6 separate regions of the Homo sapiens genome follow, and regions 2, 3, 4, 5 and 6 are each linked to region 1. The links come from fine-mapping of genetic effects on gene expression. A gene starts in region 1. Each other region holds a variant in brackets. All regions are shown on one strand. Distances are from middle to middle.

The links.
Region 2: its variant is fine-mapped to the expression of CHST15 in tibial nerve (GTEx, PIP 0.96).
Region 3: its variant is fine-mapped to the expression of CHST15 in whole blood (INTERVAL, PIP 0.90).
Region 4: its variant is fine-mapped to the expression of CHST15 in whole blood (TOPMed, PIP above 0.99).
Region 5: its variant is fine-mapped to the expression of CHST15 in whole blood (TOPMed, PIP 0.93).
Region 6: its variant is fine-mapped to the expression of CHST15 in whole blood (TOPMed, PIP 0.94).

What each region holds. Positions count from the first base shown.
Region 1 is chr10:124,091,188-124,096,415 of GRCh38, reverse strand. CHST15 (carbohydrate sulfotransferase 15) reads left to right here and starts at 2,818. Exons shown (of 8, transcript NM_001270764.2): 1 at 2,818-2,947.
Region 2 is chr10:123,997,078-124,002,305 of GRCh38, reverse strand. No RefSeq gene overlaps it. Among named protein-coding and RNA genes, the nearest start is that of CHST15, 94 kb to the left of the region's middle. The variant A/G (reference allele first, on the strand shown) is at 2,655.
Region 3 is chr10:124,060,093-124,065,320 of GRCh38, reverse strand. All of the region lies in intron 1 of CHST15 (carbohydrate sulfotransferase 15), which reads left to right. Among named protein-coding and RNA genes, the nearest start is that of CHST15, 31 kb to the left of the region's middle. RefSeq lists an enhancer at 4,806-5,228. The variant T/A (reference allele first, on the strand shown) is at 3,309.
Region 4 is chr10:124,039,691-124,044,918 of GRCh38, reverse strand. It overlaps CHST15 (carbohydrate sulfotransferase 15), which reads left to right. Exons shown (of 8, transcript NM_001270764.2): 3 at 1-339; 4 at 2,472-2,618. Among named protein-coding and RNA genes, the nearest start is that of CHST15, 51 kb to the left of the region's middle. RefSeq lists an enhancer at 1,445-1,684. The variant G/T (reference allele first, on the strand shown) is at 2,626.
Region 5 is chr10:124,009,230-124,014,457 of GRCh38, reverse strand. It overlaps CHST15 (carbohydrate sulfotransferase 15), which reads left to right. Exons shown (of 8, transcript NM_001270764.2): 7 at 1,978-2,125; 8 at 4,119-5,228. The coding sequence ends at 4,309. Among named protein-coding and RNA genes, the nearest start is that of CHST15, 82 kb to the left of the region's middle. The variant G/A (reference allele first, on the strand shown) is at 2,858.
Region 6 is chr10:124,132,408-124,137,635 of GRCh38, reverse strand. It overlaps LOC105378536 (a long non-coding RNA gene), which reads left to right. Exons shown (of 4, transcript XR_946428.3): 4 at 2,290-3,845. Among named protein-coding and RNA genes, the nearest start is that of CHST15, 41 kb to the right of the region's middle. The variant C/G (reference allele first, on the strand shown) is at 2,712.

The DNA of each region.
Region 1 (5,228 bases):
TCCCCATTATCTCATTGTCTAAAGCAAGTCCAAAGTCAAGGAATGGGGAAGTACAGTCCCTGCACTGGAAGGCTGTGACAAGGATGCAGACGTGTGATAACCACCACGGGAGAGTGAGGAGTTGGGATCAACAGCTCAATTGACTGCTCGTAGGTGCTACCAGAAGCCTCAAACTGAGGCATGGAAAGAAGTGACTTGCCCAGGGTTGCTCAGCTAGTGGGTGGCAGAAGTAGAATTTGAACCCAGGCAATTTAAATCCACAGTTGTGGGGGCCTAGAGTGCACACACGGGAAGCGGGGATTTATTTTCTGAAAGTATCTGCATTTTTTTTTCTTTTTTCTTTTTTTGAGAGGGTGTCTCACTCTGTCACCCAGGCTGGGGTGCAGTGGTGTGATCTCGGCTCACGGCAACCTCTGCCTCCCGGGAATCTACGGGCTTGCGCCACCACGCCTAGCTAATTTTTGTATTTTTAGTGGAGACGGGGTTTCACCATGTTGGCCAGGCTTGTCTCGAACTCCTGACCTTAAGTGATCCACCCGCCTCGGCCTCCCAAAGTGTTGTGATTACAGGCGTGAGCTACCGTGCTTGGCCGGTATCTGCATTTTTTTCAGCCGTGACTTGCTAATACCATGTTGGTATCAACCTCTCTTGCAGTTACACATTTATTTGTCTATCCTTCCACCCATCCACAGGGACCTGGCATTTGGGTGTTCTTTCAATTCTCTGCAGTAACAGGCTCAAGTGCAATTCTTGGGTAATTTTTTGAAATTAAGGTTGAAAGGAAAAAAATCACCTTCTAGTTAATCTCAGGCACGTGTATAAATACCTTTGGAAAGTCCCTGGTGGAATTCATATCAAAGCGGCACCGTGATTTTTACTTAAAAACAATTTTGCTCCATGTCAACCGTGGTTTCTGACACCTGAATTTGAAAGTGATCTGGGTGGGCCCAGCGCCATCTCCATAACGGAGTTATGTGTTTACTTGGAGGGAGGAGAGGAAAGGCATTATTCCCTGGCAGTATGTGTGGCCCTGGAATAATGTTCCACACACCCTTACAGAAGGGGATTTCCTCCTTGCTGTTTCCACAGACCCTTCCCTGTGTTTGTTTAAACCCGTTGCACACTGGTCTGACAGCTGCCTGGCCCAGGGCCTTCCTTGCAGACGCATGTACAACCAACCCTCTTTAACAGCAACCTGCTCTGTGTCCCCTGATGCAATTACTCGAGTATATAAACCTCACTGAAAGGCAGGCTTTTCTTGGGAGCTAATAAATAAGCCCCAAAGCCACAACGTGTGTGAGACCTTGAAAAATGGCATCATCATCTATTGGGAATTGTGAACCCTGCAAAAAGCAGCTCGTTGTATTTTCAGAAATAGGTTTTTGTTTAAAAAAAAAATAAAGAACAAAAATCACTAAGTGGAGTCTATATGGAAAAAGCAATCTAGTCTGAGATTCTAAGGCAAGTCTCTTTGCTGCATTCATCTTTCTTCGCAGATTTTATGTAAGAGGCATTATTTGCAGGAAAACAAGACAGGATTTTAAAGAACTCCCCTCTCATCCCGGTTTCCCATCTGCAGTTATAATCCTCTGATGGTGACCTCTGCATTAGTTGCCATGGGTGCTGAGCAGAAGTTTATGACCTCAGGGTGGACTGTAGCTTCAGGGGGGCGAGATGAAGCCTCCGGCAATAAAGAGATAATGGGGAGAAGCCACTGTCAGGAATGACCCTTCGGTGGCATGTAGTCTACAGTTAACGGAGCACTTTCATTTCCACTTCTGGTTGCTTCGAGGAAGAGGGTGCTGGACTCTGGCCACGGGGACACAGGCCGGCAAGAGACTGCAGATTCTTTTTGTCCCTTGGACCTCAGTTTCCTGAGAGGCTGGGCTTGGTGCTCCAAGCGCCCTCTGAGCGAATCTGCCAGAATTTCATGTGTCTTTTCTTTAACTGATGGCATCTTCAGCCCAGAGTCAGTGGAGTCGGCCACTGGTGCCGCTTTCTTGCCCTCGGGCTGTCCAGGTGGTTCCCTGGGGCAGCCGACTCCAGGCCACTGCGGCAGGCCGTGGCGATCGGGGTCCTGCAGAGCTTTACCTCCCCCGCGGAAGCAAAACACGCCGGGCCAAAGAGCCGGGCCAGCCTTCCCGGGATGCAAAAATACAACAGAGGGCGCCGAACTCACCAGCGCTGTGGCCTTGAATATTAATGTACGGGCTGGCTCCAGACCGCCAAGTTCCTTAAAGATGTCTCTGGCGGCCGGGCGCGGTGGCTTACGCCTGTAATCCCAGCACTTTGGGTTGGGGGGGCGGACGGATCATCTGAGGTCGGGAGTTCGAGACCAGCCTGACCAACATGGAGAAACCCCGTCTGTACTAAAAATATAAAATTAGCCTATTTTGCGTGGTGGCGCATGCCTGTAATCCCGGCTACTCGGGAGGCTGAGGCAGGAGACTCTCTTGAACCCGGGAGGCTGAGGCAGGAGACTCTCTTGAACCCGGGAGGCGGAAGTTGCAGTGAGCCGAGATCGCGCCATTGCATTCCAGCCTGGGCAACAAGAGCGAAACTCTGTCTTTAAAAAAAAGAAGTATCTGGCAAGGTGTCACTGCCAGATTTCAGGGGTTTCGATGTGCTTTTATTTGGAATCACCGCAACACACAAGCAGTGTTGACTCGGAGGGGGAGGGGGCAGGGGCCAAACCCACCGCTCGGCGCACACGCCTTGATCTCACATTCCAGACTGGAGCTGATGTGTGTCAGCGCGACATGGGGCGGGGGGAGGGTTCTCCTCGGATGTTTCATTCGCCGTCTGCACGTCACTCCCAAACTTTTCCTCCCAGCGCTCGGGGAGTCAGGTTGACGCGCCCTGGATGCGGGGCTAGAGGCTCGGGGCTGGGCGCGCTCCCGCGGAGCCGGAGCCGCAGAGGCTCCCGGGCTGGACTCAGGCTTCTCAGGTACAAGTTAGGTGCCAGACGCCGAGGTGGGGTCGGCGAGGAGCGGCGGTAGGAGGTCTGGCCCTGGGCTCGGGGCTCCGGCGCCCCTCCGCGGGTTCGGGCCAGGCAGCGCCGGCGGCGGCCGGGGCTGGGCGTAGGGAGTCCGGGCCGGCGGAGGCGGCGCGCAGCCTCACTCCCCGCGGCGCTCCCGGCGCGGTGGTGGCGGTGGCGGTGGCGGCGGCGGCCCAGGCAGACAATGAACTTGCGAGCTCGACGAGCCGAGGCAGGTTTGGGCCCCGGGCTCCTTGGCCCGGCCTCCCCGAGGCTTCAGCGATCCCCAGCGGGAGGAGTCCCTTCGCCATTGGTCCTGGCCGCGCTCCGGGCGCCCTGCGCGCTTGAGGACCCCGCGGGAAGGGTTACCCAGCGGCGACACACGCCCCCTCCCTCGCAGAGAGGACGCGGCCGGAGCGAGGGGACAGGGGACCGAGCAGTGGCGTGGTGGCGCCGTGGATAGCCGGAGGCCGGCGGGGGGCGCAAGCCGCGTGGAACGCACCGGCGGGCTGTCCGGGAGAAGGAGCCCAGTAGTCGGAATCGGGGCGCCCCTGCACCGCCCAGCTCTGGGAGCCGCAGGCGGGGGACCGACCGACGGACAGACCAGTGCTTTCACGGTGTGAGCGCGCGTCGTTTGGCGGTAGGGGACGGGGATTCCCCCCAGCCTTGCGCTCCGCCCCCACACCCCTATCGCACTTTGGGGAAGTTTCCAGGCGCGGCCCGGGGCAGGTAAGTGGGCATCCGCCACTCTCTCCCCGGTTGCGAGCTCGGATGCGCTTCCAGAACCCTGGCTCTAGCCTTGCGGCGGTTCCGGGCGGGGAGGCCAGAGCTCTCCCGCGCCTAAGCCCGTGGGACCCGGTTCAGGGAAGGGGGATGGCGGGGGCGGGCCTGGGAAGAGATAGGGGAGCGGCTGAGCCCCGAGCGGTGTGAACTTTTGCTCCCCGCCCCCTCCTCCTTCCTCCTCCCCGCCCCGCCCCCACTGCTGTCCCCTCCCTGCGCCCCGCCGCGTCTCGGGAGGCGGCGTGACTCGGGAGTTGCCGGCGCTTCCCGGCGGTGGCGGCGTCTCTGGCCGGCCTTGGTGCGGCGAGCCGAGCGAGGCAGCTCTGAGCCGCGCGGTGAGGCCAGAGGCGGGGAGCCGGGGCTGCGGGGCGGCGAAGCTGGGGAGCCGGATGGCAGCGGCCGGGGCGCGGAGGCGACGCTGGCGGTGGAGATGTAATGCGAGTCTGTTGGGTTGTGTGTGCCGGGAGATAGGACGCGGTGGCTGTGGGTGGCTGGGTGGCGGGCTGTGGCGCAATTGGCCCCCTGGGATGGCAGGATAGAGGCGCCGGGGCGAAGGGAACCTTGCCTTTGGGAAAATGAATGAAGAGCCGTGGAAGCACCTTCCCGACTCCTCCAGGCAACCGATGGGCCGGCGTGCGCGCGAGTGTGTGCGTGTTGAGGCTTCGGAGCCGCCCGGGTCCTGGGCACAGCTGCTTGACCTCCCCGTCGCTGTCCGGGTGCCCACGTTCCCGCCCGCCCTGCGCCCGGGGCCGGCCGGCGCGGCTGGGACGGCGGGTATAGAGGAGGAAGGCTGGGGCTGGGTTGCCGGCTGCTGGCGGCTGGAGGTCCGCGCCCAGTGTAGGGAAGTCTTCGAAGGAGGCTGCCAGGCTGGAGGCTGGGACCAGCTCCTGGGGGCGGGGGCCCTTCTTCGTCTGCCTGCGTGCGCGGAGCCGCTGTGACAGCTGGGCGCCTTCGCCTTGTTCACGTTGGTTAAGTTAATTGTACCGAGTTCTCGGGAATGAAGTGTGGCTCCGGGATGCCCCGCAGAGGGATGTGACAAGCCGGTCAGTGAGGCTGAGCAAAGGGGCTAACCTTGCCTCTGGGCGCCCTAGCAGTGCCCCCAGCCCCTCTTTATCAGCTGCAATTCCTGAGTGTTGTGGGATGCCTCGGTGGGTTAGGGTAGCCACCCAGCGTTGGGGCAGAAAGGCCTCGGAGGGCATCTGCACCCCCGAGGGGCCCTGAAGTAAACTGAGGCCTAGAGATTTGCCCAGCGTTTCTCCTGGACCCTCCTTGGACCTTCCTGGACCATTATCCATCCCCCGCTTTCCTGCTTCTCCTCCCAGGACCGGCAACCTTGCAAAATCAGGAACCCTCCCTTCCAGAACATGGCACTTACTAATTTTACAAACTGAATGTTGAACTAGGATCTCTTGATTGATACATAAAGACATACATAGATCATATATGATTTTATTCAAAGTAGTATAGGAAT
Region 2 (5,228 bases), 94 kb after region 1:
ATTTAGAGATGGAATTCAAAATACAATAGTTGAGTACAATTTTTTGGTAATACAGCTCTGCTTACGAGAAGCAAGGGGTTCTTTTGGGAGTGGGTAACATGCTGCTTCATTGAGGGTCAAGTTGAGTGCACCCTGTCAGACCCTCTGCAGATGCTCGTCTGGAGATGCCATTCCTAATCCAATCTCCTGGCCCTGTTGACTTTGTTGGCAGCTCCTCCTGAAACTCTCACTTGGTCTCCAGAACAACGGACTCCTCGCTGGTCCTCATCCTGCCTCCATGGCTGCACCTGCTCTTCTTTCTGGCCATGAATGTCGGGGTGCCCAGCGGCTCAGTCCTTAGCCCTCTCCCATAACTGTTCTTATCCAGTCCGTGGCCTCAGACGCCATCTCTATGCCGATGACTCCTAGACCTCAGCCCTGAGCGCAGGCTGGTGCACCCACTGCGTGACAGGTGGCGCCCCCAGCATTAATGACTCAGAGCTCTTGGGTCTGTCTCTCCACCTAAGCCGCCTCCCCAGCAGGGTTCCATCTTCAGTCGCAGTGACCAGCCCATGCAGGCCATGTCACTGAGCTCTACCCGGGCGCTGCTCGCCCACACCCACCCTGGAACCCATCTTGCCGGCCGTCCTGCTCCTGCCATCTCTTCTGCGGGAAGGCTCTGCCCCCAGCTTCCTCCTTCAGGCTGACAGCCACTTCCCAGTCAACCTGACCACCCTGACCAAACAGCCACCCCGCCCCTTCCCAAGCCACTCTCTCACCGTCCTGTCTTATTATTTTGTGTAAGTGATCAGGGAAGGGACCATAGTGAGGCAAAGGCACCGGCCCGGCCAGGGTCAGGGAAGGGACCATAGTGAGGCAAAGGTGCTGGTCTGGCCAGGGCCAGTGAAGGGACCATAGTGAGGCAAAGGTGCTGGTCTGGCCAGGGCCAGGGAAGGGACCATAGTAAGGTGATCTCACTTGGTCATAGTAAGGAGACCAATGGTGGATCCTGCCTCATAGGATCCACCATTCTCCCGGCTCTGCCCCCTCATCTTGACCACTCTTGTATTAGTTTGGTTGACTATTTTCTGTATTTTATGATCCTTTGACATCTTGCTGGCCTGGGAAGGACTGCCCTCTCGGGACTAGCTAACCCCTAGATATAGAGGCACTTGGAGCACACCTTTTGTGTGCAAAACGGCCAATCCCAGCCCACCCCGACCATCTCCCTTCCTGAGCACTTGCAGTGGGCAATGCAGCTCCCCAGTCGCCCCGCGGGCCAGGGGCCAGAAACTTGGAAGCCCAGACACTCTGAGCCCCATAAAATTATTCAAACTCAGCTCTAGCCCTGCATAGCCCAGTTGCTGTTTGTCCATTTCTTCCTGTGAAAACCACAGCAAAGGCTCTGGCTCACCATTTCCCCAGGGCTCTCTCTGCCTCCTCCCCTCGGTGCTTCCCAGTGGCCCCACATAGCCCGGTGTGTCTCTTCCTCTTGGGAACTGTGAGTAACAAACCATTGTGCCAAAGGCAATCTTTTTTTTTTTTTTTTTTTTTGAGACAGGGTTTCACTCCGATGCCCAGGCTGGAGTGCAGTGGTACCATCTCGGCTCACTGCAGCCTCAACCTCCAGGGCTCAGGTGATCCTCCCACCTTAGCCTCCTGAGTAGCTGGGACTAAAGGCACCTGCTATCATGCCCAGCTAACTTTGTGTATTTTTTTGTAGAGACAGGGTTTCGCTATGTTGCCTAGGATGGTCTTGAACTCCTGGGCTCAAGCAATCCACCCACCTCAGTTCCTCAAAGTGCTGGGATTATAGGCATGAGCCACTGAGCCCGGCTAAAGACAATCTTCTGAGCTGTTGGTCTCACTTTACCCGAATAACAGTGAAACCTATGCTTCAACACCCCCCACCCCCGCACCACTCCCGCATGGTGGTGAGAGCCGGGGCCAAGGCCCTCCTGGCACCTCCACTGTCACTTTTCCCCTGCAGTCCTTCAAACCATGTCACTCTCTTCCTTGAAACCCTCCCCAACCCCCCAACACACCTAGGATAAAAGGCCAAGACCTGCTCATGGCCCTCGAGGCCCTCCCTGGGTTCTACCCTGCCCTGCTGACCTCTGAGACCTCAGCTGCCCGCACTCACCTCAGCCCTGGCTATGCTGACCTCACCGCCATGCTCAGCACACCAAGCCCTTCCCTGTACTGGCCTGTGACCCTGGGGTGCCCTGCCTGGCACACCCTTCCCTGACCCTGGCCAGGCTGGCACCTTCGCCTCACTACGGTCCCTTCGCTGGCCCTGGCCAGACCAGCACCTTTGCCTCACTACGGTCCCTTCCCTGACCCTGGCCAGGCCGGCACCTTCGCCTCACTACGGTCCCTTCCCTGACCCTGGCCAGGCCAGTGCCTTCGCCTCACTACGGTCCCTTCCCTGACCCTGGCCAGGCTGGCACCTTCGCCTCACTACGGTCCCTTCCCTGACCCTGGCCAGGCTGGCACCTTCGCCTCACTACGGTCCCTTCCCTGACCCTGGCCAGGCCGGCACCTTCGCCTCACTACGGTCCCTTCCCTGACCCTGGCCAGGCCAGTGCCTTCGCCTCACTACGGTCCCTTCCCTGACCACTTACACAAAATAATACCTCTCCTGCATGGCCAGCCTCCCTGCTTGATTTGCTCAC[A/G]GCTGTCACCTGAGACTGGACCATCTGTGTGTCTGCTGCTGCTTCAGCAGCCCTCTGCCCATCAGGGACCTCCGCTCCTTGAGGTGGGAACTCTGTTCATGGCTGCAGCCTCAGAGCCTGAATCAGTGACTGCACATAATACTCACTCAACAAACTTAGATGGGGCAAAGGCATGTGTGATGATGCTGTAGAGCAGGCAATCCCCCACCCCTCGGGCATGGGCCAGTAGCAGTCCTGGGCTACACAGCGGGAGGTGAGAAGCAAAGCTTCATCTCTATTTACAGCTGCTCCCCATCGCTCACATTACCACCTGAGCTCCACCTCCTAGTGGTAACGTTGGATTCTCATAGCAGCTCCAACCCTATTGTGAACTGTGCATGTGAGGGATCTAGGTGGCACATTCCTTACGAGAATCTAAGATCTGTTGCTGTCTCCCATCACCCCCAGATGGGACCACCTAGTTGCAGGAAAACAAATTCAGGGCTCCCACTGATTCTACATGATGGTGAGTTGTAGAATTATTTCATTACGTATTTCAGTATAGTAATAATAGAAATGAAGTGCACAATACATGTAATGAGCTTGAATCATCCCAAACCATCCCCCCCACCAAACTGTGGAAAAACTGTCTTCCATGTAACTGGTCCCTGGTGCCAAAAAGTTGGGGCCTGCCGCTCTGGAGTGTGAAGCAGGGAAAGAGGACCTCACCGTAAGGGCCAGGCTCACTTTCCTAAGGAAGGAACAGGGAGAGCCTAGAAGAATGCAGGCCTTGTGCAAATGTCAGAACCTCCAGCAGAGGAGAGGTCTGCAGGGTGCATGGGGGCTGTGACCCAGATGGCATCAGGAAAGAGGTGGCGTTAAGCTGAGCCCTAAAGACTGGCAGGATCTAGAAAGGTGGGCAGGCATGCCGAGAGGAGGGGCTGGGGTGAGCAGGGGCAGGGAGCAGGGAAGGCCAAAAGAGCAGGGAAGGTCTCAGTGCCTCCGGAAAGGAGTATACGAACATTCTGGGCTTTGGAGTCAGGGAGACCTGGACTACAATCCTGGCTCTGCCATTGTCCTCTGTGTGACCTTAGGCAGAGGGTTTGATGCTACTGAGCCTCTGTTTTCTTATCTGCAGAATGGGTATGCACTCAGACTCAGGCCCTTATGGCGATAAGGGTTCACGCATGTAATACCCTCCACATGGCATCTGGACCCTGGAGGTGGGGGCAGGTCACCTCAGCAATGGTCCTCAGGCACGATTGTTGTAGCAGTAGGAGGTGAAGCCACCCAGGTAAGTGGGCACAAGGTCAAAGAGGGTTTGGGTCTCAGGGTAAATGCCTTTGGTTGAACTAGTGGTGTATTGAGCTTCCCACACTGACATTTTCTGAGCAGAGGAATTATTGGTTAGCGCAGGGATTTAGGTCATTAATTTGGAGCAGGTAGAAGTGCCTGGAAATGGAAGGACTAAGGCTGAGGCTTCTATGGTCCAAGTGAGTGATCACAGGGGCTGGGAGTAGGAAGCACGGCTGAAGGGCCATCTCAAAGGCACTGTACCAATGGGATGGTGACATCACTACTGACGGCACCCACAGAGCTGGGGTATATGTATGCTTATGTGTAACTTCCCATTTTACAGAAAAGGAAGCTGGGGCTCAGGGAGGTTAGGTGACTGCTCCAAGGTCACACACTTAGTACTGGACCCAGTGTTGGAACCCACCAAATCTGACCCATCTTGTGCTTGTCACTAACTGAAGGATGTGGCAGGCAATGGAGGCAAGGTCAAAGGCAAAGTCAAGCCCCAAATGGTCAAAGACAAGGATTAGACTTGGAGCTGGTGTCCAGCCTGAGGGTGGAGGGGTGAGGGACATTTACCGTAGCAGGGGAAGGCTGGGTCGAGTCAACGTTCTTGCAACATCCGTAATTGCAGCGTTAGCTGGGCAAGTTAGATGGGTGGGGAAGTCCTACTTAACCACATAGACATTTCTTAAACATTTTATTTTTACTTCAAATATGTGAAGTACAGCACATCTATTTGTCTGCCTTTTGGTATGGAGCCAAAACCTTTTCTCTGAGCATGAGCCCACTGATTGGAGCTCTGGGTCATCTCTGTGGCAGAAACCACAGAGCAGTGAATCAGCACTGATTTCTGGTTTCAGTGTTTCTAAAGGGACATGAGAACTGGAAGGCGCTTGCAAGGCAATCTCGAGGCAGAGTCCTTCATTATTTGTGTGATTATTTTCCCCAAATCATTACCCTCATCTGTGCTGGGACTTTCCAAAGCTTCCAGCCTAGCATTCAGGGAGCAGCTCCCTTTCTGCATTAATATTTCATCAGCTTCCCTCAGTGGCTCTCCGAGAGTGGCCCAGGGACCACTTGCGACCCTTTCAGGGAATCCAAAGTCCAAATTCTTTTCACGGTCAAACTGAGATGTTGTTTGCCCTTGATGCTCTCATTTTCTCCAGAAGGTACAAATAAAGATTTTCAGAGCCCCCAGCCCCCAGCCCTGGCCTCTGACAGCCGACGGAATGCGTGCTTGTGTGTCTCTGTGCTTTGAAAGTCTCTCATCTTTAATTTTGAAGATAGTCAATATCA
Region 3 (5,228 bases), 31 kb after region 1:
AGCCTGGATCTCCTGGTTCAAGAGATCCCCCGACCTCAGCCTCCCAAGTAGCTGGGACTGTAGGCACCACCACTATGCCTGGCTAATTTTTAAATTTTTTGTAGAGATGGGGTTTTGCCTTGTTGCCCAGGCTGGTCTTGAACTCCTGGGCTCAAGCCATCCTCCCACCTCGGCCTCCCAACATGTTGGAATTACAGGCAAGAGCCACCGCGCTCAGCCCAAATTTTAAATTTAACCCCCGCCCCCAACATGTATTGGGCATTCTGTCTTTATGACTGGGCTATGTTTTTATGTGTGTTGCCTGCCTACCTTTAGAATTTTCTTCAGGACTTTTTTTTGTAAAAGCGAACAAAAGAAGAGACTCTTTTGCCTTCACAGAGCTGATAGGACTGTCAGCTGGTTAAGGCGGATGCTAGTCAGACAAGCACACACAAAAAACGGAAGTGGGAAGGGTTGGAGGATCAGGGCAGGGCCAGTGTGGTCTGGGGTTTCAGGGAAGGGGTCCTTGCCTGAGATCTGAAGGGTGAGCAAGAGCGAATGCATCTAGCAGGGCCAGTGGTGTTGGGGAAAATGGGATCTGGCTAAGGAGGCTGGGAGAGGCAGAGATGGACACACAGAGACAGCGAGATAAAGGCCGCCAGCAGGAGTGGGGGCTCGGGGGTGGGGTTGGGGGGATGCAGTGCTGCAAGGGGGATTGAATGTTCCCAGGTACAGCCCAGCAACGAAGAGGGGCTCAGGGCTTGGGGGACCTGCCCAAAGTCACAGAGTGGGTATGGTTGTTTCATGATCTCGTGGTGTCTCCCGGGCCGCAAGCCCCACAGCGCCAGGGCTGTGCCTACGCTGCGCACCCTGAATCCCCATGGACTCCCAGTCAGGGGCTTGCGTTCTGCTCCGTGGCCACTGCTGTACCTTTGCAAGGATGGGGAAGGCCTTGGGGATGGGGAGGCCATCACACAGGCACTTTGACTGCATCAAGCGAAATTCTTACTTAATCTGAAATGACTTCAGGTCTGAAAACTGTGTGCTTTGATCAAATATTTACTTTTCCGAAACAGAAACCAGAGCAGGTCTTGATTGTACCAGTCAGCTTGAACCAGTCAGCTACAATGACTTTTCGTAAGTCTATTTTTTTTTTTGAGATTTCGTTTTAGCCCAGGAGGAAATCTGCTATCTGCAAGAAAGTCCTGGCCTTCATAATGAGGCCTGAATTCTTTCCAGATCTTATGAGAAAGATTCCACTCTTCTGTGATTAATTCAGAGAGGTTACTAATTTCTCATACCATAGATCGTTTGCTTTGTGGGAGATGACTGTGCCTCAGCCAAGATCCACTTATTATTTTTTGAACAAGTTTTTTTTATTATCATGTTTACATAGCACTGAGGACACAAAACAACGCTGGAAGCTCAGCTGTCTGATTCATACGCTGTATTGCTGACTCTCACTTCTCCCTTCCCCTCTCTACTCTACCTCTCTGCAAAAGAAGGCTTTCCTTCCAGAGCTGGCAGCTGCCCCTGCTTCTTGACAGGATGAGCAAGACAGCGGTGGTTTAAGCAAGGTCTTCGCTGTGCTCCGGAGAGATGTGGGTATTCTGGGGGAACATGCCTTTGTTATAATATTTATTGAATGTTCACTTTTCCAGCTCTGAATACTGAAACTTAGTGAGATTTTTTTTTTCGAGCCATGCCCCATCAACACTTTTAGGTTGTCTCTAATGGAAAAGAGAAAAGAAAAAGATTCATTTTTGATGGACTGGGCATATCCAAGTTCAGTGTCTTGGGTGATAGGTCTATAAATAAATACTTGTTTGACCTATTTTACAGAGGTTGGAAATCTAGATTCTAGATCTGAGTGGAGTTATCAGAAACTAGGTCTGTTATCTAAAAAGCTAGAGGAAATTGACAAGGAGAAGGAGGGTCTGAAATGACCTTTTTTTTTTGAGACGGAGTGTCACTCTGTCCCCCCAGGCTGGAGTGCAGTGGTGCGATCTCAGCTCACTGCAACCTCCACCTCCTGAGTTCAAGCGATTCTCCTGCCTCGGCCTCCCGAGTAGCTGGGATTACAGGTGCCTGCCACCACGCCCGGCTAATTTTTGTATTTTTAGTAGAGATGGGGTTTCACCATGTTGGTCAGGCTGGTCTCAAACTGCTGATCTCAGGTGATCCACCCGCCTCGGCCTCCTAAAGTGCTGGGATTACAGGCATGAGCCACTGCGCCCAGCCTGAAATGACCATTTTTTAATTAGTTTCTTGTCTGGATCTCTCTCTCTTTGCCTCCTGGTGTCTTGGTGGGACCAGCGTTTTCATGGCCACATCAGGGTGGAGAAGGGCTCTCTCCCAGCCTCTCCAAAGCAGTTTTATTCAGACATTGCTGGTCTGCATGCAGCTTTAGCCAAGCCCCCCAACTCTTGAAAATGGGAAACTGCTTGATGAGTGAATGTGAAAGTACATGTCCCCATCCTCCATGAGGTGAGAGGTCTTCAGCTTGCGTTTAAGTCCAGCCCTGCCTCTTACTTGCAGTGTGATTTAGGGCCAGCCACTTCACTGTCAGAGCCTCGGGCTCCCTTCATCCTTTTTAAAAGTATTCGGCCACTGATTCCGGCTCGGCTGGGTCTTTATACACCAGGCCAAAGTCCTTACTGTTGAGCTGAGATCCTGTTTGCAGAAACGGGAGGGAGGAAAGAAAAAGAAATGAGGCTGCTGGTGGTGGTGGTTGCCGTTTGTTGAGCAGTTGGAGTTGGCAGGCACTATGGGCATATTTTTGTGGGGATTTTCCCGTCTAATCTCCACGCCTGTCCATGGGGTCGGTACTGCCGTTAATCTCCCTGCTACAGATCAGCGAAGGGAGGCACCGAAGTGCAAAGCAGTTTGCCCGAGGGCACACAGCCGGTAAGGGGTTGATACAAACCAGATGGCACGTGTGGATGTTCACCTGCCTCTGGGTTTTGGCTTTTCATCTTTCCTCCCCGCCATGTTTCTCTTTCCACAAGGGTATGTGCCCGTTCCTATGTGCCCAGCAGCTGTATGGGATGAGATCCTAGGCTGCCTCTGTCAAACGCTCTTTGGGCATTGGTGAACATTCATAAAACAGCATCCTCTGGGGTCACATTGTCCCTTTTGCTCTTGGACCTGGAGTTCCTTTGGTCTGTGCGTGTGTGTAAAGATGCATGCCCACTCCAGGGAATTCTGTGGTCTGCTTGGGGTTTTCCATTGCAGTGGCAGAGAAGACAAGGGAAAATGTCCTTCCCGGCTGCACTCCCAGGCCTGTCATTTGGAGTTGAATGGTAATAGAAGGGTTTTTTTTTTTTTTT[T/A]AATGATTTATAGTATGTCTGGAGGAAAGATGTTATTAATTCAAAGATAACTTGAGAAAGGAGGGGACACAGTGCAGCTTGGACAGAGCTTCCCACTGGTGCTTTGCGCAGTCTTTAGCCCACCTCTGCCTTGCCTTATGTGGTCCTATGGCCTCATTTCAATTCCCTATTTCACCTGATCTGACGAGGGAGGCAAGGAGTGCATGCATTTTCAACAGATAAAGAAACTGAGGCTCAGAGACGTGTCTTACTGGACGTGAACTCACGTCCTGGAGGCCTAGGCCCAGTCCGTTTTCTATTTGCCACACCATTTTTTGTGCAACATTTATTATTTTTTCTTTATTATCTTTGTAGTTACAAAAGTGATGCTTGCTCTATGTAAGTAAAATTGGAAGCAAGATGGAATGTGTAAACAGAAAGCATAGCCCCCCAAATGCTACCCACAATCAACAATGGGAAACTGTGTGGGGAGTGTATTAGTCCGTTTTCACGCTGCTGATAAAGACGTGCCCAAGACTGGGAAGAATAAGGGGTTTAATTAGACTTACAGTTCCACCTGGCTGGGGAGGACCCAGAATCATGGTGGGAGGCAAAAGGCACTTCTTACATGGCTGCGGCAAGAGAAAATGAGACAGAAGCAAAAGCGGAAACCCCCGATAAACCCATCAGATCTCGTGCTTATTTACTATCACGAGAATAGCACGGGAAAAACCGGCCCCCATGAGTCAATTACCTCCTCCTGGGTCCCTCCCACAACACGTGGGAATTCTGGGAGCTACAATTCAAGTTGAGATTTGGGTGGGCACACAGTCAAACCATATCAGGGAGTGAATGTGAATGTGCATGTCCCATCCTCCATGAAGTGAGAGGCAGTTTGGGCTTCAGCTTGTGTTTAAATCCAGTTCTGCCATTTACTTACAGTGTGATTTAGGGCAAGCCACGTCACCCCACCCAGAGCCACCGTTTTCTTATCTGCACAATGGGGCGATTACACCTACCTTTAGCGTTGTCTAAAAGTCAGAAAGAGATGAGAGGAAGCAGGTTCCCAGCTTGATGCCTGCCATAAAATGGCAGCTCATCCTGGTTCCTTTCCCTTTCTCCCTACACCAGTGCTTCTCAAACTTTCCTCTTCGTACTCAAAGGTGAAAGACAGTGAGAGCTCCCTGGGGTTTCCCAGGCTGGCCCCGACAGCTTGCAGCCAGCAAGGCAAGCTGGATCTCTGCAAATTTTGTGTCAGTTAGTATATACGTGGATATAACTTCATTTGAAAACAATGTTTTCAATGTTTGAAATTTCGAATATTTTAAACATGGAAGCTTCAGTTTGTCTTACAGCTTCATACAGCTCCTGGCTAACCTCTGCACACTGGAGGTAGAGGGGCTGGCACACCTCCACATGCCCACATGCCCCTGGGGGAAGCACACCTTTGCACACTCCTGGTGGGGTTGGCACACCTCCACATACCCCTGGGGGTCTGGCACAACTCCACACATCCCTGGGGGCCTGGCACACCTCCACACACCCCTGGGGGGCTGGCACACCTCCACACACCCCTGGTGGGGCTGGCACACCTCCACACACCCCTGGTGGGGCTGGCACACCTCCACACACCCCTGGGGGGCCTGGCACACCTTCGCACATTCGGGGGGGACACACCTTTGCACATTCCTGGAGGATCCTGGCACAACACGTTTCTGGGGGGGCAGACACACCTCTGCACACTCACTCCTGGGGGAGGTACACTTCTGCACACTCCTGGGGGCGGGGCTGGCACATCAAACACTCCTGGGGAAGACCAGCACACACGGGGGAGGGTTGGAACACCTGTGCACACACTGCATGGGTGCTGGCACACCTGTGCACACACTGAATGGGGGCTGGCACACCTGTGCATACACTGCATGGGGGCTGGCACACCTC
Region 4 (5,228 bases), 51 kb after region 1:
TGTTTTCAGTCATCCCCAACAAATTCCTTCCAAACAGTAAGAGCCCCTGTTGGTACGAGGAGTTCTCGGGGCAGAACACCACCGACCCCTACCTCACCAACTCCTACGTGCTCTACTCCAAGCGCTTCCGCTCCACCTTCGACGCCCTGCGCAAGGCCTTCTGGGGCCACCTGGCGCACGCGCACGGGAAGCACTTCCGCCTGCGCTGCCTGCCGCACTTCTACATCATAGGGCAGCCCAAGTGCGGGACCACAGACCTCTATGACCGCCTGCGGCTGCACCCTGAGGTCAAGTTCTCCGCCATCAAGGAGCCACACTGGTGGACCCGGAAGCGCTTTGGTGAGTGCTGGGTCCCAGGGCTCCTGTCTGGTCTCGTTCCTTCATTCGTTCATTCCTCCCGCAACGTTAGCGCTGGGGTTGGGGGGCGAGGGCGGCAGAAAGAGATGGCACAATTCCCTTGTTAGGAGGCTGTTCCCAGGCAAAGACCCAGCAGGGTCTGGAACTCGGTTCCCAGCCATGCAGTGAGCATTGATTGCCAGCTGTGTGCAGGACACGGGGACGAGTCAGAACTGGCAGCTCTTCTTGTTCCGAAAGCCCGGGCACATGACCCGAGCAGTCAGCAGTAAGTGCCAGTGGCCAGTAAGGGCCAGCAAGAAGGGCGTGATCCGGGCTCTTGGCTCCCAGCTCTGTGCTATTCCCTGCTCTGTGCCGCTCCCAGCTCTGTGCCGCTCCCAAGCTCTGTGCCGCTCCCAAGCTCTGTGCCGTTTCCTGCTCTGTGCCGGTCCTCTGCTCTGTGCCGTTCCTCTGCTCTGTGCCGTTCCCTGCTCTGTGCCGCTCCCTGCTCTGTGTTGTTCCCCTGCTCTGTGCTGTTCCTTGGCTCTGTGCTGCTCCCTGCTCTGTGCTGCTCCCTGCTCTGTGCTGTTCCTCTGCTCTGTGCTGCTCCCTGCTCTGTGCTGCTCCCTGCTCTGTGCTGTTCCCCTGCTCTGTGCTGTTCCCCTGCTCTGTGCTGTTCCCCTGCTCTGTGCTGTTCCTCTGCTCTGTGCTGTTCTCAGCTATGTGCTGTTCCAGCTGCAGTCACTGCACCTGGGGGAGACTGAGTTGCTTCAGGCCTCAGCTTCTCTGACCTGCCCCATCTGCCTTATGGGTTCCATATGATAACCACATGGAGATCATTCTGGAGGCCTTGCTCTCAGCCCTTTGCCGCAGGCTTACCATGACCACTGCCCATCCCTCTCTGCTCCAGCTTAACCCCATGCACCCTGCGGTCCTCAGATCACTGTTTCCTCTCTGTAACCTTTTCCTTGTGCCAGGAGAGGTTTGGTCACTGGAGCTGAGGGGTGATACGTGCCTATTGTCAACCAGAGTCCTGGCAGGCCACGAGGGTGTTTTCCAGTAATGGACTCAGGTTGACTAGAAGGGAATCTTCAAAGTTTTCCCTAGACCAACTCTTAATGTGTTTCCTGACAAACGTTTGCTTTCATCCTTTTGATGTTCGTCCTACAGTGAGCTAAAGTGTAAATGTTTCTTTTGTGGTTTAGCAGCCGCCACTGTAGGAGCCAGGGTTTCACATCCCTATGCATTTGCTGGACGTGTCTGAACACACTCCCTTGCTGTAGGGTGCTCCCCCGAGGCTCACAGTGATTTCCCCTTAATGAAAACCAGCTTTCTACCGGCAGGAAAGGAGGAAGAACAGAGGCGGGCCTCTGGAATCTAGTCTTCAATGTCACCTTGAACCTCTTGTTACTTTGGCCACGGATGTTCTCTTTCCAATTTCCATTGACTTCAGGAGTTGTGGTGTTGGGAAGTGGATTTTTAAATGTTTGCAAGTGAAATTTATTTATTTTTCAGGCAGGGGGTGAATTTAAGCTGTATGTGGCCGATGCCAGAATCCATGTCTGTCTAGAGTATGATCAGTTCCCCTTACTGTTTGGACAAAGGGCAGGGTATTTGATTGAACAGGGGGAGGAGAGAGAACATCAGGCAGGTGCTGGCTGGGCCCCATGAGGAAGGCATCATGGAGTTTATAGGATACTGCCCTTCTCTCTCCTGTGGGCAGCCCTCGGTCCTCTCTCCCTGTTTGACACAACACATGCATCCTGGGTGTCATCGCTGCCCAGCCACTTACGAGTCCCACCTGTGCACAAGTTAACCAGCCCCAGACTTTGTCCCTCCAAGCAGACATGTTTCTAGCTCTTGAGTAGGTGTTCCAGCCTTTAATCTGCCACTGTCTAGCTTAGTGGTGGTATCTTCCAGCCCTTGAAGCATGCATGGATTGAAGTGGGTAGCCAGGCCGCATAGACCCCCACCCCCATCCCCAGCAGCCCTTTCTGAAGCTTACCTGGGCTGAGCCTCTTGCTGCTGTCGCCAGGCCCTTTAGGCCTTTCCATCTCTCTTTGGTTGCTGTCTGGGAGGCCATCGCTCCAGCAGTAGCAACTTTGTCCTCAGTATCTCCTGCTTCTTGGTTCTCATAGGAATCGTCCGCCTAAGAGATGGGCTGCGAGACCGCTATCCCGTGGAAGATTATCTGGACCTCTTTGACCTGGCCGCACACCAGATCCATCAAGGACTGCAGGCCAGCTCTGCAAAGGAGCAGAGCAAGATGAATACAATCATTATCGGTAAGGC[G/T]TCTGTGTCACTCTGGCAGGGCTAGCACCCTCCCTGGGGTCCTGGCTCTGGCTCCAGGCCTAGCCCAGCTCTGCTTCACCTCCAGAACATTTACATGGTGGCAGCAAACTTCTTTTGAGCCTCCACTTCTCCACCTGGCTGTCACTCTTACCACTACATAAAATGTTCACATCACTTGAACATTACTATAAAGTGGAAATGTTGACTTTCTAATTCTTTGGAGACTTAAGGACAGCTGATGGCTTTCTTGAGAAGTTGCCATTTCTTTGTTTTTAAGAAATTAAGCAGGGATATTGACTTCTTTTCCTGATGTACTGATCTGATAAGTTTGGATGGGGGAATTATAAGTGCAGTTAACTGGTTAGTCATCGATTTGCTGCTTGGGGCTTTTGTAATCCCTGGCCACTGGGACCATATAAGACGGAGGCAGCTTCTCCTGAAATAGACTCAGCTCTGACACATCGCCTATAACTAATTGCTGTTTAAAAAGCCTAGCCCCTGTCAACCTCATGCCTTTGGGCATTCAAAGTGAGGTTGATTAATAATAATTTGTTTTAAATATTCACAAGAATATTTTATAAGTAAACATACATATTTACTCTTTAAAATTTATTTTTTATTGTATAATTTAAGGTGTACAGCATACTGTGATGTTTCGATGGAAATAGAGACAGTGAAATGATTGCTACAGTAAAGCAAATTAACATAGCCATGTTTTTTTCACAGTTACCTTTGTGTGTGGGGAGGGGGGCGTGTGTGTGGTAAAAGCACCTGAAATATACTGTCTTGGAAAATTTCCAGCATGCAATACAGGATTAATAGGATTAATAACTACAGTGCACATGCTCTACCTTAGATCTCTAGACTTGTTATTTGCCTGACATAATTCTTTTTATTGGATTCAGCTTAGAAGGCGTTTATCCACTGATGCCTTCTAAAAGAGAAATTGAGTCACGTTTTGCTTAAATTGTTTACCTTAGATAGTGATCTATTTTTTAATTTTCCTAGATCTGTTATATTTGCAATCTCCAAATTAAATAAATCTATTAGCAACTAAGAGGAATTATAATCAGCCCTTCGAAAGATGACTTTTTAACTTAAGACTCTCCTGTCCAAGGGGACAGACTTATGTGCCTAAGTCCTGACTTAACTCTTTTTTTTCTTTTAAACTCAAAGAAATTAAGTCACTGGGAGTCACCTCCAGTATGATTTGGCTGTTATCTAGTTTTTTGCAAACTTGGGAGTCCAAACTCCCCAAATCTCAAGTCTGACTTACATTTCATTGTGACTCCTATACCATATGCCTCTGGGAAAATCACATGTTCTTATGAAAGAGATGAAAATATGTATTCTCCGGCCAGGAAACAGAGACTAAGATAATGAATGAAAAAGGAAAGCCTCAGTTTGGTCTCCTAATTTTGCTTGCTCCAAGATTTTAAAAAGAATGAAAAATAAAATCACTGTGCTGATATTTACTTAAAGCAGAGTTTGGTGAGTTCTATGGTAGTCTTGTGGTGTGACAAGTATCTAGCCCTGCTTGGGCCAGCGGCCAGCTCTGTGCCTTGCGGCCGTTCATTTTTCCTGTTCCTGGACTCTGTCTGCACCTCTGCAAAGTGGGATTGTTGGACCAGGTCAGTTCTAGACTCCTTCCAGCTCTGAAATGTGACTCAGCTCTGCCCCAGCGCTTCCTCTTTGTTAGATTCGGGGCAGAAACAGCAGGATCTTTCATCATCTTGGGCCCCTAGGTCAGAGAGGACCTTTCTTCTGCTGTCTTTTTGACAGCTAGAGTCACACAAGAGGTTCAGGATTCAAGTGGCCTGAACGTGATGGCTGAACTTGAGGCCGGAGCTTTAGACATGTTGAAAGTCTCCTGCCTCTACTCCCAGGTACCCATCGTGGTACTCTTTGTTTCTTGAATTGCCATCGTCCCCCTTATGTCTTAAGGTCCGAGAGAGGAGGGGCCGTGCTTTCCTCCCCTGATCTGTCCCTGGTGCCAAGCACAATGCTGAGCACGGATTAGACACTAAGTTAATGCTTCCTGGATGGACGAAGGATGGATGGTGGCTGGATGGAAGGAAGACAGTCAGGTGGATGGACAAACGCCTCCATGGCTCTAAAACCAGTTCATTTTTGAGATCTGACAGAATTTGTGCCAATTTAGCTAGAGAGTTCACTTGTCCTTTATATTCTTATTCATTGTGAGTAGAATTTTCAAGGGACTTCTGATTGACTCGTTTTTTCTGTATCCTAGGGTATTATCTCTTTAAAAAAAGAAAGAACAAAAGGCCAGAACAGAGCTGTTCACCTGGATGTGATTACGCATCCGACAGAAATGATAGGGGCCTGCAGGGATATGATACACTTGTCACTGACCAAAGAGACTCAGTCATCTGGCTCAGTCTCTCCCCAGATAAGTAACTTTCAGATGTGTCCTGTGGTCCTTGGCAAACTGTCAGGAAATCAAGTGTAGAGCTGATTGATGAATTTCCTTTTTCCTAAACACACACATATACACACACACATACACGCACACACACTGTCTCTCCTCAAACCCTCAGGAAATTTGGCTTCATCCTCTGAGAGAGTCTGTGCTGTTGGAATGC
Region 5 (5,228 bases), 82 kb after region 1:
GGGTTGGAAACAGCTAATGAATTTTGAAGGCAACTTATCCACTCTAATTGCTTTTCTTCCTCTCCATCCTCCTCCATGGTTAGAAAAATAATGAAATGGGAAAAGAATAGTTAGCATCTGTACATATTTTGCCCAATCTTTCATTGTCTTATTATTAGCACTGTATTCAGCAGTTGCACCCGAGAACCATGTTGAGGGCCAGAGTGCAGGCTTTGCAAGGAGGGAATGGTGGAGAAGCCACAGTCCCTGCCCTCAAGGTCAAGGTCCAGGTCAAGTTGGGCAGGAAAGGAAATGTGACATGAGAGTGTCTGCCTAAAAAATGGGAACTCCAGGGAGGAGCCTGGGGAGCCAGGAAGTGCTGCATGTATGAGAGGATGAGCTGGAAGTTTAAGCCAGGCCCAGGACTTTCTACACATAGAAAGCCATGGAGGCTTTAAGCAGGGCTGGCTGTGGCCAGATCACTGCTTTGGAAAGCCCATGCTGGTGGCAGGGTGCATATGAGAGTGCAGAGACCAGGGGAAGGAGGACTAGCCAGGAGGCTGTATCAGCTTCAGGCAGGTGTAGATGGGGCATAAACAAAGGGAGTGGTGTGAACTGGGGAGAGGTGGGAGATGAGAAGTTCTGGGCAGACACAGATAGGCAGAGCAGGGTCCCTGGGCACTTGGAGAAGAGGCAAGGGGAGAAGCCCTGGAGAAGGGGGCCTCACAGCAAAAGGGGATGAGGCTGTTTTTTTCTGGAAGCTTTGCTAAGAGTTTAGGGTGAACTGTGGAGTTAGAGGAAACTGTTCCTAAGACTGCTCTCACTTCTGACACCAGTTGCAAGTTCAGGAGAGATATTCTCCAACCCACCTTCAGGTTTAGTAATTTTCCAGAAGGATTCTCAGAACACACTGGAGGCTATTACACTATTGGTTATGATTTATTACAGGGAAAGGATGAAGATTAAAATCAGCCAAGGGAGAGGAAGTGCAGGGGGCAGACTCCAGGAGGGGCCCAAATGCGGAGCTCTGAGTCCTCCTCTCCCTGTGGAGTCATGGACGGTGTTAGTGCCACTGGCCATGGTATGTGGCAATCCTCGTGGAGTATTGCCAGGCCAAGCCTTGGGGGTCCAGGCCTTTTACTAGGGTTCCGTCACATGCAGATGCTGTGGCTGACCTTTAGTCTCCAGTCCTACCAGAGTCAGAACTGATACCATGTGGCCCAAGGCCCCATCATCAATCTCAGTGTTAGCCTGCCTATGACCAAAGCCCTCAGGCCAACCAAGACACTTCTGTCAGGCAGGACATCCAGGGGCCCAGACATCACCCCCAGGAGCCGAGGGAAAGGCCCGAGTTCTCTCTGAGTAGAGTTAAATCTTCACCACACGGCTTGCAGTAAGGCACGAGAGAAGGAACAGAAGGGTGAAGACCCGGGAAATGGGTACTGGAAAGTAGAAAGGACTTAAATAGAAACATCCTCCTGTGTACTTGGTTCAGTAATGATTAGATGCTGAATTACACACACCCTCACAGTCAAGGATGTTCCTCTGGCATCAGGCATTTGGCTCTTCACTCATGTAGGTTGTCTTTGGGGTGTCTGTGGTTGATTTTTCACATCCCGTTGTGTGCTGGGCATAGAGGTCACACTGGGAACAGAGAAACAGCCAGGATATTGTGCGAGGAACATGTACACCATTGGTGGCCACAACCTTGACCTCTTCCCTGCACTTCAGTCCTTACCTGTGAAATGGAGGCATGGCGCTACCCACAGGGTGTTGTGAGGATGAAATGCAACCCCTAATATAGGAATTCTTTGCACATGTAGCACAAAACCCCCCATAAAGAAGCAAGAACACCTTGTGTTAAAATCCAGCTTCTGAAAGTAACTTTGCTAGGATAACTCTTTTGTGGTACAGTGAAATGCCATACCACTTTGGAAAAGTGCCCTATGGTGTTGGGGCAACTGCTCCTGAAATAATGCCCTTCTTCTGTGGTCCTAGGTGAGGCTCCAGGTTGGGCTCTATGCTGTGTACCTTCTGGACTGGCTCAGCGTTTTTGACAAGCAACAGTTTCTCATTCTTCGCCTGGAAGATCATGCATCCAACGTCAAGTACACCATGCACAAGGTCTTCCAGTTTCTGAACCTAGGTATGAGTGTGGTGCTTAGACTGACGGGCCAAAGCATGAGCTCCGTGGACTTGTTCTGGGAGTCCTCTGGGGCAAATGCAGACCTGGTCAGCTGGGTGGGAATGGGCTGAGCTGGGAGGCCTGGGGATGTCCTTCAGGAGGCCTGTTAAGTACCATTTATTGAGCACTAGCTGTACATAGGTCATTGTGCACAGTATGGTGAGGGATTCTCTGGAGAGAAGGAGATGGTTTCCCTTCTGGGAGCTTATGGTCTAGTGAAGGGAGAGGAGGAAGCCATAGCTCACCTAACTGAATGACAGGTAGGATGCCGTGGGGAAGGTCAGCACTGTCATGTAAGGTATGTGCTGATGGTTTGGGATCCCAGCTACTGCACGGATGAGGAAGGCTTCATGGAAGGAAAGGGCCTGAGAGCTGAGCTTTGTAGGACCAACAGGATGTCACCGGGGGGCTGGAGCAGAGGACTTGGGGCTTAGAGGAGGGAACAGACAGATCATTGCATCATCTCCGGTATTCTTGGAAATTCCAGGAGTCAGAGCCGTGTGGCTGAGTTTTGGCTGCTGATCATGGATGCTGGGCCCCTGGGGCATGAGCGCCTGCCCTCAGCCTGTGGATACCAGCCCCCCCAGGGGCCTGAGAGTCACTTTGTGGTGACAGGCCACACTGCTGACTATGGTGATGGCTGGCAGAGGCATGTGCTGGCGGAGCGAGTGCTGCCCATGTGGACGGGGCACC[G/A]AGGGATGGCTTGAAAGGCTGAGCAGGCTCGAACAAGCCGCCCTCCTTCCCAGAACGCCTCCTGCAGCCCTGACTAATGGTCTTGCCCGGGAACTTGGTTAATTGAGTATTTCTGAAAATATATCTGCCTGCCACTGGGACTTGGGCCTCTTTGATCATTTGATTTTGTTTCTCCTTTTTTTGGAGTTTGATGAGTTCTTTCCCTTCCAAGGCTTAGAATCATCTTTCTTTGATTTGACCACATGTTGACTCTGTCCCATTAATGAGCTTGTCTTTTGTCCCCAAGATGGATAGTAAGGCCAATTCTGTGTTTCATATGGCCCTAGGATGCTGGGACATGCTTTTTCTGTCTATGGGCTAAGGACTTTGGCCAGATCCCAAGAGCCCCCGGTAAAGAGGCTTGAGCAGTGATGGGTTACACCAAGAAGCTGTGGCCCAGAGGGCGGGGCGTTGGGGTCGCAGCCCTTGCTGTTCTGTTTCAGGGCCTCTCACTCCAGAGGGCGGGGCGTGTGCGTGACTGACAGCCCCTCCCGGCCTTTTCCAGGGCCTCTCCTCACTCCAGAGGGCGGGGCGTGGCGGTGACTGACAACCTCTGCCAGCCTGTTCCAGGGCCTCGCCTCACTCCAGAGGGCGGGGCGTGGGGGTGACTGACAGCCCTTGCCGGCAGGCCTCTTCTCCCTGATCTCCTTGCTGCAGATGGAGGTTCAGCCAGTGGGGGCTCTGGGCACAAGTGGCCTCCTCCCAGCCCTCCTCCCTATGGCCACTTCACAGCAAGACGCACAGGGTGAAACTGTGCAGGCCCAGGGACCTTGGCATGAGCAGCCTGAAGTAGAAACGATGATGGCGGAATTCCAGAGGGCTGCTGAGCAGGAAAACCGAAACCCGTGGGCTGTGCTCGGCAGGCCGCACGTTCCTCCAAGGACGGGCTGACACCCATGGAGAGCAGCCCACCAAGGGCAATTGGAAGGGAATCCTTGAGGTCAGCCTTAGACGCTGTATCATCATTAAATGCCAGCTGGGCTCCCCCGAGGGTGGGCATCCTGCACCCGCCGCAGAATTTCTTCGCAATTTCCTGATGGTGTTTCCACCTTCCTCCCTCAGTGCTTCCAAAATGGATCCAGCCAAAGAATTTTAATCCCTAAATATGTTCTCTTAAAGGAAACTCCTGTCTGAATACGAAGCATAGCTGGGATTTTTGCAAAGTCCCTTTTACTTCCTGCCATGCCTCCTGCCTTACGGGACTCGTCTTCTTTTATTCTAGGGCCCTTAAGTGAGAAGCAGGAGGCTTTGATGACCAAGAGCCCCGCATCCAATGCACGGCGTCCCGAGGACCGGAACCTGGGGCCCATGTGGCCCATCACACAGAAGATTCTGCGGGATTTCTACAGGCCCTTCAACGCTAGGCTGGCGCAGGTCCTCGCGGATGAGGCGTTTGCGTGGAAGACGACGTGAGAGCTGAATTGTTGCTGCACGTGCTGGGCCCGCCAATGCCGTCATCATCAGGATTTTACAAATCTCTTTGCGGGGAACTGTTTCACTCATGGTATGGAAAACCCCAGGACTCTGCCACTCTAGGCACACATGAATTATAACCATTTTGGAATTTCCTTCGTGATGTTCGAGAGCTCAGCAATGGACCCCTCACAGAGCTCCTCTATCCGAGGCCATTGGAGACCCCAGTTTCTCAAGAATTCAGCTCTGCTCTGAGCGTCCTGGAGCTTGGGGATGCAGCCAGCTGGCCTGCACTGGGTGTGGAGAGAACACCTAGGGAAGGCAGCCTGGCCCTGCCCGCCTCCGCCTTCTGGAGAGCCTCTGGGTTCTGAGTCAGCAAGCCAGAGGTCATGCCACAGGCCTGGCTGGAACTTACACTTCACGTTCCCTTTTTTTCCCCCTAGAGATGGGGTCTCGCCGTGTTGCACAGACTGTCTGTATTCAATGGCTATCTTCACAGGTGTGATCATACCACATTCACTTCTGAAACACTCTTGTTGCGATCGCTAACCTCACTGGGACAGAGAACCGCAGTCTTTCGAGAATGGAGGCTCTTCATTTTTTTTTTCTCCTTTACTCCAAACTCAGCCCTCCAGTTTCTTCAGATGTAAACCCTGTTAACGTCACTGTTTCCAAAAGGAAAAAAATAAGTCAGTTTTTGGCAGCACCTTCATCTTTCTGACCTCCTCCTATTCTGTCCTTGTGGACTTATGTTTAACATAGAAAATGAATGCGTTTAAAACAAAACCACTTTCTGCATTTAACCAGTCCTGGCTCTCTCTCTGCTGCCTCTTCATACGTTTTCTCAAGAACTTCAGTTTATAATTGGAAGAGAAATTTTTGCTGTTAATGCCAGAATGAGCAACCTCAAGGAATTGAA
Region 6 (5,228 bases), 41 kb before region 1:
CCCAGGTAACCATCATTCTGAATCTTGTGTTTTACCTTTTTATAATGATCTTTGTACGTGAATGTATGCGTGCATCTCTAAGCAGTATGCACTGTTGCTTAAAATGCTTTCACATGTTATGTGAATGATATCATACTCTCTATATTCTCCTATAACTTGCCATTTTTGCCCTCTATCATGTTTTTGAGGTGCTCTGTGTTAATGCATAGAGCTCCAGTTCACACCCATTTTCAGTAAAGTACAGTATTTAAATGTGTGTGTGTGTTTCTGTGAGTGTGTGTGTTTATTCTCTCATACGACATTTGTTTTTGCTATTATTAACCTACTGCTGTGCACACTGCTAACCACATCTCCTTTGCACATGGACAAGAGCTCCTCGAGGGTATCATGCAGAAATGGAAGTGCAACTCATAGGCCCAGCATATCTTCAGTTTTACCGTATGTTGCCAAATAATTTGTTAAAATAGAGCAGTTTATATGCTGGTCAGTGGTATATAAAACATTTCTCTTCAGTCTACATGGTTGCCTAACCTTTTCTATTGACAGGTTTACAAATTCTGACAGTAAATGGATGTAAAATGGAATCCCATTGTAGTTTTGACTTGATATTTTCCCGATTATAGGCAGACTGTTGTATTTCTTCTTCTGTGAAATGCCTGTGTATAACTTTTGTCTCTATTTCTGTTTTGCCTCTAATAATTTTTTAGTGATTTGAAATATATTTTGGATAATCTTTTTAAAAGAGATGCAGGGTCATGGTGGTCTTGCTGTGTTGCCCAGTCTGGCCTCAAACTCCTGGACTCAAGGGATTCTCCCACTTTAGCCTTCCTAGGAGCTGGGACTACAAGCATGCACCCCTATGGCTGGCAATTTTTTTTTGTTGTTGGTGATATATTGCAAGTATTTTTTCCCTGTTTGTGGTTTGCCTTTTTTTGTTTGACAAAACATTTTTGTATTATTTGTATCTGATTAGCAAAATTTTTTTTATTTACTTAAATTGTTCTATTTTTTTCTTTTATGATTTATGCTTTTTGTCTTTTTTCTCCCATATAATCTGAGGTAGGGATCCAGTTTATTTGTTATGTGGATAGCCAATTTTCCCAGCACCATTTATCTAATAGTCAACCCTTCCCCCTTCCAAATGAGTCAACTTTTTTGGTTGAATAAAAGCAATGATCTCAGATATTCTTGCCTATTTTATAATTTTAAAAGGAATGTTTTTCAGTGCTTTACCATCAAATATGATGTTTATGTAGCTATTTTAAATTTATTCTGTTGGATTAAGTAAAGTACCATATTTTTCTAAATAGCCAGGAACTTTTATCATGAATGAGGGTTAAATTTTATCTAATGTCATTTTCTGTCATTAATAAGATGCCAATATTTGCCTCTAATCTCTTAATATAGTGAAATTACCAATAACTTACTAATAATAAACCATCTTTATTTCTCAAATAACCCAATTTGATGATGATGTATTATTATTTTATAGGCTTTGGTAGATTTGGGTTGTTAATGTCCTGTTAGTACTCTTGCATACATACTTCTGAGAGATGTTAGCCAGAGATTTTCCTTTCCCAAATGCTTTTACCTGGTTGAATTACCAAGGTTACACTAGCTTCACAAAATGGTCTCACCCTTTCTAGTCTCTGAAAGAGTTTACATAAGTTGGAATGAAAAGTTTGGTAGACCTCTCCAGTAAAACCATCTGGGCCTTGCAGTTTTTGGTGGAAACTAATTTAATTTGTTTAGTGGTCATAGAACTGTTCAGGTTTTCTATTTCCTCCTGAGTCAGCTTTGGTCACTGTGTTCATTAGGACTTAAGAATAAGCTTGGCCGGGCGCAATGGCTCAAGCCTGTAATCCCAACACTTTGGGAAGCCAAGGCGGGCGGATCATGAGGTCAGGAGTTTGAGAGCAGCCTGGCCAACATGGTGAAACCCTGTCTCTACTAAAAATACAAAAATTAGCCAGGCATGGTGGTGCAAGCCTGTAATCCCAGCTACTGGGAGGCTGAGGCAGGAGAATTGCTTGAACCTGGGAGGCAGAATTTGCAGTGAGCTGAGATCATGCCACTGCACTCTAGCCTGGGTGACAGAGCAATACTCCATCTTGGAAAAAAAAAAAAAAGAATAAAGAATAAGCTCAGGTGCAGTATCCTGCAGGAAGTCTTCTGTGACATCCCCTGCCCATAATAGACTAAATTATCTTCCTACTAACTTCTACATTGTATTGTCATTCATTCATTCATACAATATTTATTGAGCATCTACTATATGTACTGTTCTAGGTGCTGGGGAAAACCAGTGAACAAAATAGAAAAATTCCCTGTTCTCACAGAATGTACATCCTAGTGAGTGGAAGGGCCGTCAGTAGACAATATACATGAATGACTTGTATGACAACTACTGGAGGAAAAAGCACAGCAAAGAAGGGGTCCAAGGAGTGTCAGGACAGGCAAGGCTGCAAGTTTTAATTCAGCAGTCAGAGATGTCACTGCACACACTCCTTCTTTAGGAAATATTTATGGAGTACTTACTAGGTGCTAGGTACTAGGATTACAAAGAAGAACGAAATAGACAATATTCTTGCTTTTGTGGAGTTTATTATCTGGTGGAACACAAGTGATACATAGGTAAATAATCAAATAAATAGAAATTATAGCTATTGATGAAATAAATCAATAGGTGCTTTGATAAAGATAGCAGGAAA[C/G]CTGGTGTTAAATAGGATGCTCTCTCTGAAGGGGTCCTCTGGGGCTTGGACCTGAAGCATGGGAAAGAGCGAGTGGGACAGAGCACCCCATGGAAACAATCTGCTCACCTCTTGTCTCATCCATGTGACTCTGAGCTCCTTGAAGGAAGAGATCATGAATTATTCATTCCCCATTTCCAGCATGGCACCAGGCCTGGCACATTAGAGATGCTCCACAAATGTTTGTTTACCTGTTAGGTAGAAGAAATCAAGAGTAAGAGCTGAAAAACATTTGAAAATTGCCGTTTGTTGGCTGGAAGAAACAAAGTTCATCATGCAGTTGGCTGACATCTATTCAACAAACACTAACCGTGCCTGGCAGTGGGTTACAGGTTGCGTGGAAGACCCCCTCTTTGAGGCGTTTTAATCCGGACGGAGAGGCAGACTGGAGTTATTCTCATTCGAGGCAGATCCAGGCCCGGGCAGTCCCAGCAAAGGGGTGGGTGTGTGGTCTGGCAGTGGGCCAGGGGGTGTGCTCCCATCAATGTTGCCCAGCCTGGATGTGCCATGCCCTGTGGATGGAAAGGTGGATGTGGTGTTTGAGCTGGCCTGGGTCCTCCCTGGCTCAGGGCCCTGGAGACAGATCTGAGTAGTGACCAAACTTGAGGGAAGGGTCAGCTCCTGCTGCCAATCACCTGGGCTTCTTGCTGACAGCAGGACACAGCCAACCTTGTTGAGAAGACAGCCACACAGATGTCATGGGGTGTCCAAAGACAGTGTGTAGCTCCTTCTAAGGCACCGGGGACACTCCTCTGGCCATCCAGTGGCAGTGTTTAAATGGCAGAAACATTTGCTACCTTGTCTCAGGGAGCTTCGTAGGACTAACGGGTTGATTTACACTCTGCAAGGGAGAAAAACGTCCTCCTCTGAGATGTGTCATCAAAACAGTGACAGCATTGGAAATTAACTGGGCAGGTCCATGTTTCTTCATTTCCTAGAGGTGTCCAAGTGACATTTTCTGCCAGTTTGCTTCATGCAGCCCTCCTCAGATAATCAGAAATGTGTTTACGGGCTTGGGCGTTTGCGTCGTTTGACTAGTGCTTCACGAGGGAAGCCAGCATGTATGGGAGTAAGAAAAACAAATGTTTAAAACACCTGAATGATAGCAATACCTTGTTGGATTATTTACTCACGTTTTGCAAGTATGGGTTTCTAAAACCTGAGAATCTGCTAATTTCTTTCAGATACTCTCCGTAAGTATTATGCATATTGAAAATAACAGAGCTCTCCTCTACTAAAACAAAACTTCAAAAGGGATTTCCAACTGCCATGTGCTGCTTATTGTGGGGTTGCTAGATGCCCCCCTCCCCTTCCCACTACACCAGCCCCTGCCCCGTGGTAGAGAGATCCAGTGTTGGTAACCACAGGTGACCACCGACTCTCTACTCTCCTTTTTGCCCAGGCTGGCCCTGTGCAGGTATTTCATGCCGGAACAATGCTTTTGTTTTTTCCCCTGAAAAATTGTGGGATTAAAGCAACTGGTGGTTTGGGAAGTGTACAAATGCTAAAAATATGTAGAAGTACCCAAGCAGCTTTAAGTGGTGCCATTACCTTCAAAACCAAGCCAGGCACATAGCTCGATAAACATTTGTGCAGTGAATGAATGAAAATGTCAAACCCTTGAACCATGGGGCAGGAAAAATGATCACACAGTAGCTGACTTCTTAAATTCTCTACTTTAGCTTGTTCTTGCTTTAAGAAAAGCGCACATGCCCATGTTAATTTTTAATATCCAGGAACTTCCAAGCCTCAGCCTGAGGCTAACTAGAAATATCAGTGACTCTGGAGAGATCTGGCTAAGTGACAGGAGAAAAAGTGTAGAAACGGCTTCCACCCAAGCATCTGCAGGGAGGTCCCAGGATGTTGAGTGCAATGCTATCAATGACGCTATTTCAAAAGACTTTTTTCCTGACTTCATTTTTTTGAGCTACTTGGATTCCTTCTTTATCTTCTTATCCCATTGCTCGTGACCCCCAGGCTCCTATCACCCCTCGCTATTTTCCTGCTTTCTGGGTTCATCTCTGTCCTCTGGGGACTGGACCACATAGCATATGCCTGACGGTGACCTGGAATCTGGGAGCATGAGGGAGGCTGAGAGAGGAGTGAATGACAGATGGGAAAGCCAAGCAGGGGAAGGGGAGCAGGAACAGGAGCTTTCTACCTGCCCGTCCTGTTGCCCTGCAATGGGGTCGCTGGTGCCTGTCCCTCAGGCTTCAGACCCCGCCCCCCAGACAATGGGGCAGCACCTGGGAGCATGTGACTGTCCTGCCTCTGATGTGCTAGCCATGAGCCCTGGGTGACCAGGCCTTTCCACCATCCCACAGCATCAGGGTGCTCTGCATTCCTGGGTGGCTGCCTCGGTTTCCCTGTTCACAAAGCAGGTCTTAAGCCAGTCCTAAAACGTGTCCTGAGCTGCGGCCTTCTTGGCTGGAACCCTGACCAGTGGGCCTCCCTCCTGCTCAGACAAGGCAGCCTCTC